Regions from separate parts of the Homo sapiens genome. Here region 1 is linked to region 2. Evidence: fine-mapped expression QTL. A gene starts in region 2. The other region holds a variant in brackets. All regions are shown on one strand. Distances are between the middles of the regions. Region 1 overlaps RELB (RELB proto-oncogene, NF-kB subunit). Region 2 holds the start of APOC2 (apolipoprotein C2).

What was found. PIP is the estimated chance that this variant, and not a neighbour inherited with it, causes the effect. A credible set is the group of variants that fine-mapping cannot tell apart.
Region 1: its variant is the best candidate, but not a certain one, in a credible set for the expression of APOC2 in lung (TOPMed, PIP 0.59).

Annotation. Positions count from the first base shown.
Region 1 is chr19:45,006,664-45,012,030 of GRCh38, reverse strand. It overlaps RELB (RELB proto-oncogene, NF-kB subunit), which reads right to left. Exons shown (of 12, transcript NM_006509.4): 3 at 2,209-2,217; 4 at 1-95. Among named protein-coding and RNA genes, the nearest start is that of RELB, 7.9 kb to the right of the region's middle. RefSeq lists an enhancer at 1-398 and a silencer at 4,761-4,910. The variant C/T (reference allele first, on the strand shown) is at 3,166.
Region 2 is chr19:44,943,753-44,949,112 of GRCh38, reverse strand. It overlaps APOC2 (apolipoprotein C2), which reads right to left and starts at 3,062. Exons shown (of 4, transcript NM_000483.5): 1 at 3,038-3,062; 2 at 580-647; 3 at 253-412. The coding sequence starts at 634. It overlaps APOC4 (apolipoprotein C4), which reads right to left. Exons shown (of 3, transcript NM_001646.3): 2 at 4,223-4,364; 3 at 3,617-3,973. The coding sequence ends at 3,808. APOC4-APOC2 (APOC4-APOC2 readthrough (NMD candidate)) reads right to left here. Exons shown (of 6, transcript NR_037932.1): 2 at 4,223-4,364; 3 at 3,038-3,973; 4 at 580-647; 5 at 253-412.

The sequences.
Region 1 (5,367 bases), 63 kb before region 2:
CCCGCGAGACACCAGGCGTGGCAGCCCCTCGCCCGGGCCCGGCTGTCCCCCGTCCAGGCCGAAGCCGTTCTCCTTGATGTACTCGTCGATGATCTCTGCGGGAGAAGAAAAAACGGGTGGTGACGCCCATTCTTTAAAAAATTAAAAAAAAAAAAAAAGGCTTGATTACCCCCGAGACGTTTTCCATCCCATTTATCTCTCTCTCTCTCTCTCTCTCTCTCTCTCTCTCTCTCACACACACACACACACACACACACACACACACACACACACAGAGTCAGGGAGGCCAGGTGCGGTGGCTCACGCCTGTAATCCCAACACCTTGGGAGGCCAAGGTGGGTGAATCAATTGAGGTCAGGAGTTCGAGACCAGCCTGGCCAACATAGTGAAACCCCGTCTCTACAAAAATTAGCCCGAATGGTCTCCCACGTCTGTAATCCCAGCTACTCAGGAGGCTGAGGCAGGAGAACAGCTTGAACCCAGGAGGCGGACACTGCAGTAAGTCAAGATCGTGACACTGCACGCCAGCCTGGGCGACAGAGTGAGACTCCGTCTCTCAATAAATAATAGGCTGGGCGCGGTGGCTCATGCCTGTAATCCCAGCATTTCGGGAGGCCGAGGCGGGCGGATCATGAGGTCAGGAGATCGAGACCATCCTGGCTAACACAGTGAAACCCTGTCTCTACTAAAAATACAAAAAATTAGCCAGGCATGGTGGCACGTGCCTGTAGTCCCAGCAACTCAGGAGGCTGAGGCAGGAGAATCGCTTGAAACCGTCAGGCGGAGGTTGCAGTGAGCCGAGATTGCGTCACTGCACTCCATCCTGCGCAACAGAGCAAGACTCCATCTCAAAAAATAATAATAATAAATAAATAAATAGGCTGGGCATGGTGGCTCACGCCTGTAATCCCAGCACTTTGGGAGGCCGAGGCAGGCGGATCACCTGAGGTCAGGAGTTTGAGACCTGCCTGGCGAACATGGTGAAACCCCATCTCCACTAAAAATATAAAAATTGGGCATGGTGATGTGTGCCTGCAGTTCCAGCTACTCGGGAGGCAGAGGCAGGAGAATCACTTAAACCTGGGAGGTGGAGGTTGCAGTGAGCCAAGATCATGCCATTGCACTCCAGCCTGGGCAACAAGAGCGAAATTCCATCTCTAAATAAATAGATAAATAAATACAAAAATGAGCCAGGTATGTTGGTGCATGCCTGTACTCCCAGCTACTCGGGAGGCTGAGGCAGGAGAATTGCTTGAACCTGGGAGGTGGAGGTTGCAGTGAGCTGAGACAGCACCACTGCACTCCAGCCTGGGCGACAGAGCGAGACTCTGTCTCAAAAAATAACTTAAATAAATAAATAAGAAAGAACTTGCTCCTCCAACTGCCTGTTCCACACGGTCCCCCATTCAACCCATGCTGGCTGCTTCTCCTCCTGGTCTCAGCTCGTATGTTATCTCTTCAGAAAAGCCTAACCTAATGTGTCTTCTCCAGGCCATCTCTCCCTCGTCCTGTTTATTTCTTTCACAGCTCTCAGCCCAGGCTAACATTATCTTGCTCATCTGTTCATTTTCCTCTGTCTCCCACACCGGGCTATCAGCTCTGCGAGGGCAGGGACTTGGTTTTGTTCATGGCTAAATCCCCAGGGCCTAAAACAGTGTCTGTCTGTACTCACTAGGGGATTAATAACATTATTTTATTTTAATTGGTTTTCTTTTTGAGACACGGTCTTGCTCTGCCGCCCAGGCTGCAGTGCAGTGGTGCAATCATAGCTCACTGCAGCCTCGGCTTCCAAGGCAACCTCCCAGGCTCAGGTGATCCTCCCACTTCAGCCTCCTGAGCAGCTGGGACTACAGGTGCGCACCACCATGCCCGGCTAATTTTTAAAAATTTTGTGTAGAGATGGGGGTCTCACTATGTTACCCAGGCTAGTCCTGAACTCCTGGCCTCAAGCAGTCCTCCTGCCTCTGCCTCCCAAAGTGCCAGGATTACAGGTGTGAGTCACACAGCCCCCGGCGTGCTGAGTGTTTTCCAAGTGTCAAGCACTGCTAAGTACCTTAGGAGCATGACTTCGTTCAAATCCCTCCACAGTCCTGGAAGTCACACAGTGACACCTCTCCCCCACCCCCACTGAACAAGGAAGGCCAAGACCCCCTTCTGTAGGCACTTGGGTCCCTCAGCCTCCCCGCAAACCTGCCCTGTGATACTCACCCAATTCATCTGTGGAAGGAAGAGAAAGAGAAAGAGAAAGGTAAGGTCCAGAAAGTGGTCACAACTTTTCATCTTTTAAGACAGATTCCCCAACCCTGTCCCTCCTGTGACCCTTCCGTCTTCCTCCGTCCTGGGAAACCCTGGGCTCTGACTTGCTGGGGCACTAAACCCCAAACCTCATCTTCTCCTCTGGGCTACCATCCTTTCAACCTCTAATGTTGGGGTCCCAGCATCAGGGTATCCTCCAACTAAGCCAAATGCCTCCCGAAAAACATTTAGACCAGGGATTATGAAGTCTTTTTGGGAACCCATTAGAAAGGGGTCTTAGCACCAGGAAAAAGTGGATGCCCAAATTTCCAAACAAATTGGGGTGTGTTCCCTCCCTGAAGTCCACCCCAGGGTCCTGGAGGTCACTGGCTGGTGTTTAAAGATACAAAGAGGTGGCCAGGCCTGGTGGCTCACGCCTGTAATCCCAGCACTTTGGGAGGCTGAGGTGGGCAGATCACTTGAGGTCAGGAGTTCGAGACCAGCCTGGCCAACATGGCGAAACCCCGTCTCTACTAAAAATACAAAAATTAGCTGGGTATCGTGGTGGGCACCTGTAATCCCAGCTACTCGGGAGGCTGAGGCAGGAGAATCGCTTGAACTCAGGAGGCAGAGGTTGCAGTGAGCTGAGATTGCGTCACTGCACTCCAGCCTGGACAACAGAGCGAGACTGTCTCAAAAACAAACAACAACAACAACAAAAAGATGCAAAGAGGCTGATCTGAACCCAGGCAGCCTCTTGCTCTGTACCCCAGCCCTGTCCTCCCACAGTGACCACCCAAAATCCCAGATTCACCCCTGCTTCCTAAGTGAGGAGGTACAGTAATGCTGGGTCCTCAGGGAAGCCCCTTTTCACCTCCCCAGGAAAGCTCAGCCCTTCACAGAATCGTGGAGGAATCGAAACCGACCTCC[C/T]GTCATTCCATAGACAGGACAAGGGGAAGCCCAGAGGCCGCCAGTGAGCCTTAGAATCACACAGCAACGGAAGGCAGCTGCAGCCAGGTGTCCCACCCAGGGCTGCCTGCGCTGGTCTCTGGCTGGGGATTTATAGACGCGAACCTGTTCCGCTGCTAGATCTGTCCTCCTCTGTTCTCAGGGAGTGGCTCCTGGCAGCCAGACCTTTGCCCCTTGAAAGGTAGTTTTCCTGCACCCCTTATCTCATGGGATCTGTGAAGCCAGTAGGGTGCCAAGGTCCCCCCAATTTGGCAGATGGGGATACTGAGGCTGGCAGAGAGGAAGGGACACGCTCTAGGTCAGTGGCAGGGCCAACCTCAAGTCACTTGAACTGGGAAAATCCTTCTTAGGCATCTGTGCTGGATGAACCTGGGGACCCAAAGACAGAGTTAGACTTTGGACCCTCCAGAGGCTCCCGGGCTGTAGGGGGAGACTGAGTCCTGGGCGGCTGTGGCTGGAGCTCTGGGTTCACTGCCTCTGTTCAAATCCTGGCTCTGCAACTTGCTAGTTGTGGGGCCATAAGCCTATTACTTCACCTTTTTGTGCCTTGGCTTCTTCATCTGTAAAATGGGCACAATAATAATGCCTACCTTGTTGGGCTAAGATACTTTTATTTAATATTTTATTTTATTTTATTTTATTTATTTTTATTTTTTTGAGACGGAGTCTTGCTCTGTCACCCAGGCTAGGGTGCAGTGGCACAATCTTGGCTCACTGCAACCTCTGCCTCCTGGGTTCAAGTGATTCTCCTGTCTCAGCCTCCCGAGTAGCTGAGATTACAGGTGCACACCACCACACCCGGCTTTTTTTTTTTTTTTTTTTTTTTGTATTTTTAGCAGAGACGGGGTTTTACTATGTTAGTCAGGCTAGTCTCGATCTCCTGACCTCATGATCCGCGCACCTCGGCCTCCTAAAGTGCTGGGATTACAGGCGTGAGCCACCACGCCCAGCCTATTTTCTATTTTTTGAGATGGAGTCTTGCTCTGTCACCCAGGCTGGAGTACAGTGTGGTGCATTCTTGGCTCACTGCAACCTCTGCCTCCCGGGTTCTAGCGATTCTCCTGCCTCAGCCTCCTGAGTAGCTGGGATTACAGTCTCGTACCACCATGCCCGGCTAATTTTTGTACTTTTAGTAGAGACGGGGTTTCACCATGTTGGCCAGGCTGGTCTCGAACTCCTGGCCTCAAGTGACCCACCCACCCCAGCCTCCCAAAGTGCTGGGATTACAGGTGTGAGCCACCACGCCTGGCCATGGGCATGATTTTAGAGCATGGAGTGTAGAGTCACATAGAGTTGATTTGAATCTCAGCTGTTACTCACTGGCTGTGCAGCCTTGGGCAAGTCACTTACCGTCTCTGAGCTTCCTCTACAAAATGAGGTGTGAGCTCCTACCTCAGGAACTAACATGAGGATTCAGAATCACACAGGTAAACTACTTAGTGCAGGTTCTGACCACGCGACATCTTCCAGAAAGCTTAGTTAATATTATTATTATCTCAAGTCCTCTATTAGCCAGGAAATTATTCAAGTTTCTGCTCAAATAGCAGTGCCTCCCTTTACCCCCAACGTGGACTTGCCACCATTCAGGGGCAGCCAGGATGGGCCACGTGAGAGCAGATGTGAGAGCAGGAAATTGACTATGTATGTGCTGCCTCAGCCTTTGCACAGGCTGGTCTCTGCCTGAATGCTCTTCCCCCAGTTCTTTGCATGGCGTGACTTCCTCCTCCTCCATCTTCAGTTCCTTGGTCAAACGTCACATCCTAGACAGCTCTTCCCTGACCATTTTATCCAAGAGAGTCCCCTTATCCCCCACTCCAGTCCCTCAAAGTCAGGTGCCTTTGTTTTATCATTTTCTTTTTTTTTTTTTTTTTCAGATGGAGTTTTGCTGTTGTCACCCAGGCTGGAGTGCAATGATGCAATCTCAGCTCACCACAACCTCCGCCTCGCAGGTTCAAGTGATTCTCCTGCCTCAGCCTCCTGAGTAGCTGGGATTACAGGCCACCACACCCAGCTAATTTTCGTATTTTTAGTAGAGATGAGGTTTTGCCACGTTGGTCAGGCTGGTCTTGAACTCCTGACCTCAGGTGATCCACCCACCTCGGCCTCCCAAAGTGCTGGGATTACAGGCATGAGCCACCACACCCAGCCTGTTTTATCATTTTC
Region 2 (5,360 bases):
TGGACTCCTGGGTCTGAGGGAGGAGGGTCTGGGGACCTGGACTCCTGGGTCTGAGGGAGGAGGGGCTGGGGGCCTGGACTCCTGGGTCTGAGGGAGGACGGGCTGGGGGCCTGGACTCCTGGGTCTGAGGGAGGAGGGGCTGAGGCCTGGACTCCTGGGTCTGAGGGAGGAGGGGCTGGGGCCTGAACTTCTGGGTCCTGGATGCAGTCGGTGGTATGGGCCAGACCCCATTTCTCCAGGGGCAGGTGCTACCTGAGTTTCTCATCTACAGCGGGCAGGTATGTCTTCTCGTACAGGTTCTGGGCGGCTGTCTTTGCTGACTCCCAGTAACTGGAGAGAGATTCCTTCACCTGGGTGAGGAAGGTCGGGCTAGGCATCTCATCTTGCTGGGGCTGTTGGGTCCCCTGGACCTCTGCAGGGGGAGAGTGTGTCAGGAGAGCCCGTGGGGCTGCAGCAGGGGGAAAGGAGGAAGGAAGAAGAGGAGAGGGCAGAGGCAGAGGTAAGAAGGGCCTGGGCTGGGAAGATGCTTGGAGCTCATTCCCCTCCCCAAGGCTTCCCTCCCCGGAAGCCCACACTCACCAAATCCCAATACCAGGAGGACAAGAAACAGAGCTGGGAGGAGTCGTGTGCCCATAGTGTCCAGAGACCTGGAACATTGAGGGGGTGTCATGTGGCAGGCTGACTGGAGGCGGCTGTTCCTGTGGTCACGCCCCACTCTGGTGGGGGGGACTGAGATCCTGCTCTGTGTGAGCTCGGTGTCCCAGTCAAGTTTCCCATGCATGGACTTGGACACAGCCCCCTTCTTGGGCCTCACTTTCCAACATTCTGTGATTCTACTCCTGATTTTAACATTTTAATTATTATTTTTTTCTTTTTTGAGATGGAATCTCACTCTGTTGCCCAGGCTGGAGTGCAGTGGTGCAATCTTGGCTCACTGCAACCCCCACCTCCCAGGTTCAAGCAATTCTCCTGCCTCAGCCTCCCCAGTAGCTGGGATTACAGGCACCCGCCACCACCCGGCTGATTTTTGTTTTCGTATTTTTTGAGATGGAGTCTCGCTCTGTCACCCAGGCTGGAGTGCAGTGGCGTGTTCTCGGCTCACTGCAACCTCTGCCTCCAGGGTTCTAGCAATTCTTCTGCCTCAGCCTCCCAAGGAGCTGGAATCACAAGCACCTGCCACCATGCCCGGCTAATATTTTGTATTTTTAGTAGAGATGGGGTTTCACCATGCTGGCCAGGCTGGTCTCGAACTTCTGACCTCGTGATCCGCCCACCTTGGCCTCCCAAAGTGCTAGGATTACAGGCTTGAGCCACTGTGCCCCACCTGATTTTTGTATTTTTAGTAGAGATGGGGTTTCACCATGTTGGCCAGGCTGGTCTTGAACTCCTAACCTCAAGTGATTTGCCTGCCTTGGCCTCCCAAAGTGCTGGAATTACAGGCATGAGCCACCATGCCCAGCTGCTAATTTTTATTCTTTTGTAGAGATGGGAGACTTGTTTTGTTGCCCAGGCTGGTCTGGAACTCCTGGGCTCAAGCGATCCTCCCATCTCGGCCTCCCCAGGGTGCTGGGAGTACAGGTGTGAGCCACTGAGCCCAGCCTAGAAGGCTTTCTTGAGCACCTAAACAGTTCTGGGCCCAGCAGGGAACACAGCAAAGCCTCTGCCCTTTGCTAAGGCTGAGTCAGTGCAGGGAGGTGCTCTGCAGACACCATTAAGGACCTACAGTAGATCAAATGTGTTACCTTAGGGCTCTGCCCTAAGTCAGACCTCATGTCCCTGCATCTCCTCACTGAGTTCTCACCTGCTCTATGAGAGAGGCACTTTTGGTGACGAAGAACATGCACAGGGCACAATATCATCATCCACACGTAGGAGATGAGGAAGTACGGCAGAAAGAGGGTGAGATCTGATCCCCGGAGAAAGAACACAAGCAAATGGTCTACAATTCTTTTTTTTTTTCCAAGACAAGGTCTTGTTCTCTCGCCCAGGCTGGAGTGCGATGGCGCAATTTTGGCTCACCGCAACCTCTGTCTTCCGGGTTCGAGCGATTCTCCTGCCTCAGCCTCCTGAGTAACTGGAAATACAAGCATGCACCACCATGCCTGTCTAATTTTTGTATTTTTAGTAGAGACGGGGTTTCACCATGTTGGCCAGGCTGGTCTCCAACTCCTGACATCAAGTGATCCGTTTGCCTTGGCCTCCCAAAGCGTTTGGATTACAAGTGTAAGCCACCACGCCCAGCCTACAGTTCTTTTTTAGTTTTTTAAATTTTTTCATTCTTTTTTTCCGCCAAGACTGAGTCTTGCTCTGTCACCCAGGCTAGAGTACAGTGGCACGATCTGGGCTCACTGCAACCTCCGCTTCCTGGGTTCAAGCAATTCTCCTGTCTCAGCCTCTGGAATAGCTGGGATTACAGGCATATGCTACCACACCCGGCCAATTTTTGTATTTTTAGTATAGATGCGGTTTCACCATGCTGGTAAGGCTGGTGTCGAACTCCTGACCTCAAGTGATCCACCCGCCTCGGCCTCCCAGAGTGCTGGGATTACAGGCATGAGCCATTGTACCTATCCCTTTTTCTTTCTCTTTTTTAGAAATGGGGTTTCTCTGTCACCCAGGCTGGAACACGGTGGCAAGATCACAGCTCACTGCATCCTCAAACTCCTGGGCTCAAGGGATCCTCCCCACCTCAGCCACCCTAACTCTAAGCAGAAGCTCAAATAGTCTACAGTTCTAAATTCTGTGATTTGTGGAGTGTGGTGGTGCACCTGTAGTCCCAGCTACTGGGGAGGCTGAGGCAGGAGGATTGCTTGAGCCCAGGAGTTTGAGTCTAGCCTGGGCTACATAGCGAGACTCCATCTCCCTCTCTCTCTCTCTCACACACACACACACACACACACACACACACACACACACACACAGTCATGGTTCCAACACGGGCTTCTAATATTGTGCCTCTTAAAATTCCTGCTTTATCGATCTTTGCCCTCTCCCTGCTGACGCCCCCCTGTCCCCGCACCCTGAGTCCCTTTCTTACCAGACTCTGGCAGGCTGTCCTCACCAGCTCCGGACGGGCACAGAGAGGATTTATAGTGGTTGAGACCCACTTCCGCTCCACAGCCACAACCCCCATCCTTTGTCTAGGCCAAAGTCCTGGCCAACAGAACTGCGGAGGGGGTGGGTGGGGACAGAAAGGGCAATGACGTCCCCCAAGGTCACGTCACAGGGAACCTTCTCTCAAGTGACAGGGAACCCTCACTCTGAGAATTCGCCTCCGACAGAGGCTGGGTTGGGGGCTGTGGAGGGGTTGGAGGTGCTGGGTGCCCACTGGGAATGGAGTCAGAGCTTGTAGGAGACAAGGGCGAAGCTCTCAGTGAGGGCCATCATGGGGACCTGCTGACTCCACCCACGCTCCTGCCCTCACCCTCCTGAAACTGACACGCCTTGAAGTCCCCCATTCTCCGCAAGCCCACAATAGGGTGTTATTCCTTGATACCCTTCCCGACCTCCCTACTCTTCCTTCCCCATCAGGTGTCACCTCTTCTACTCATTGATTCCTGGGAGGCAGTGGGGTGGGTTTTTTTCTGGCCACACTGGGGAAGGATCCAGACAGGGACACAGGTGAGACTTTATTTATTGGAGAAGTATGAACTTTTTTTTTTCTTTTTGTTTTACCCCCAAGAGATCTCGCTGTGTTGCCCAGGCTGGTCTCGAACTCCTGGGCTCAAGCCATCATCCTACCTCAGCCTCCTGAGTAGCTGGGACTACAGGCACCCGCCACAACCACACCTGGCTTTTATGAACATTTTAACCCTGGTCCTTGTCCCCACAGACAAGCCTGGGGCACAGGCTGTGGGTCTTCTTCAAGAGGCTGTCTTTGGATTCGAGGAACCAGGCCTTGGTGAGCGGACCCAGGTCCCTCAGGTGGTCGTCATAGTAGGTCTGCATGAAGCCCCGGAAGGTGCTCGGGCTCCTACAGGAGAGAGGACATCACAGTGGAGGCCCCAGCTCTCCCCAGGTGTTCTCTGCCCCATTTATCCGCTCCTCTCTGTGACCTAGGAGTTCCTGCTCTCAGCTCTAACCCTCCACTCCTCCCAGACCTAGGGGTCACAGCCCCACTCCCACCCTTTCCTCCTCCCTGAGACTCAGGGGTCCAGGCCCCAGCCCCTCCTCCCTCAGACCCAGGAGTCCCCTCCCACCACCCAGCCCAGCACACCCTCACCAGAACCATTGCCACCCGTCTCTGGTCCTGTTCACCACTGTCTCCAGCAGCTCCTTCATCCTGCCCCTCACCAGGCTCCAGCGACTCATCTTTAGCTTTGGTGGGGGGCTCAGGGTTCCTTCCTGGGCCTCTGGCTGGCATGCTAGGTGGAACCAGAGGGCAACTTGGGTAGGCTGGGACCCTAGAATCCCCTTCTCCCTTTCCCTCCATGCTCATCCTGTGTCGCTCCCGGTGGCCCAGGGGCAGCCCCCTGCCAGTCCTCTTGCCTCCTGCCTTTACCCTTATGTGTCCCCTGACCGCTAACCCCTCTTTAACCATCAGCCATCTCTTTTTTTTTTTCTTTTTTCTTTTTTTTTATGAGACAGAGTCAGTCTCTTGCTCTGTTGCCCAGGGTGGAGTGCAGTGTCATGATCTCGTCTCATTGCAACCTCCACCTCCTGGATTCAGGCAATTTTCCTGCCTCAGCCTCCCGAGTAGCAGGGATTACAGGCATCTGCCATCATGCCCGGCTAATTTTTGTATTTTTAGAAGAGATGGGGTTTTGCCATGTTGGGGCCTCGAACTCCTGACCTCAAGTGATCCACCCACCTCGGGCTCCCAAAATGCTGGGATTACAGATGTGAGCCACCCCGTCCGGCTGGGCCATCTCTTCACCTTGTGTCAGTAGTCCCTCCTGTCACCCTGTCTGCCTGTGGTTCCCCTCTAATGGCCTCTCTAATTGCCATCCTCTGATGCCTCCCTTCACCACCTGATTTTGCTGCCCAGGAACTACCCCCTTCTCCCTTCGTTCTCCTGTGACCCCCACCCTGTCTGAGCTACCTCTGTGGACAGTGGAGGGAGAGCAGGAGGTGACTTTCTGCCCCCAGGGGCAGACATTGGCTTAGCCTTGCTGTCAGTTCCTCTTTCCGGGCCAGACCTTCTACCCACGCATCTGGACAAAGCCTCGCCTACAGAGACCAGCCGTCACGCGGGGGCCACATGTAGCTAGCTGTGTGCCTTGGCCGGTGACTTATCCTGTCTCCCCAGGACTGTTTCTCCTTTTGTAGAACGGGGTAATAATATCTACCTCAGGGTTATCGTGAGAATTAAGAGTTACTACATACGATGCACATGGAATGGTGCCTTGCACATTGTCTAC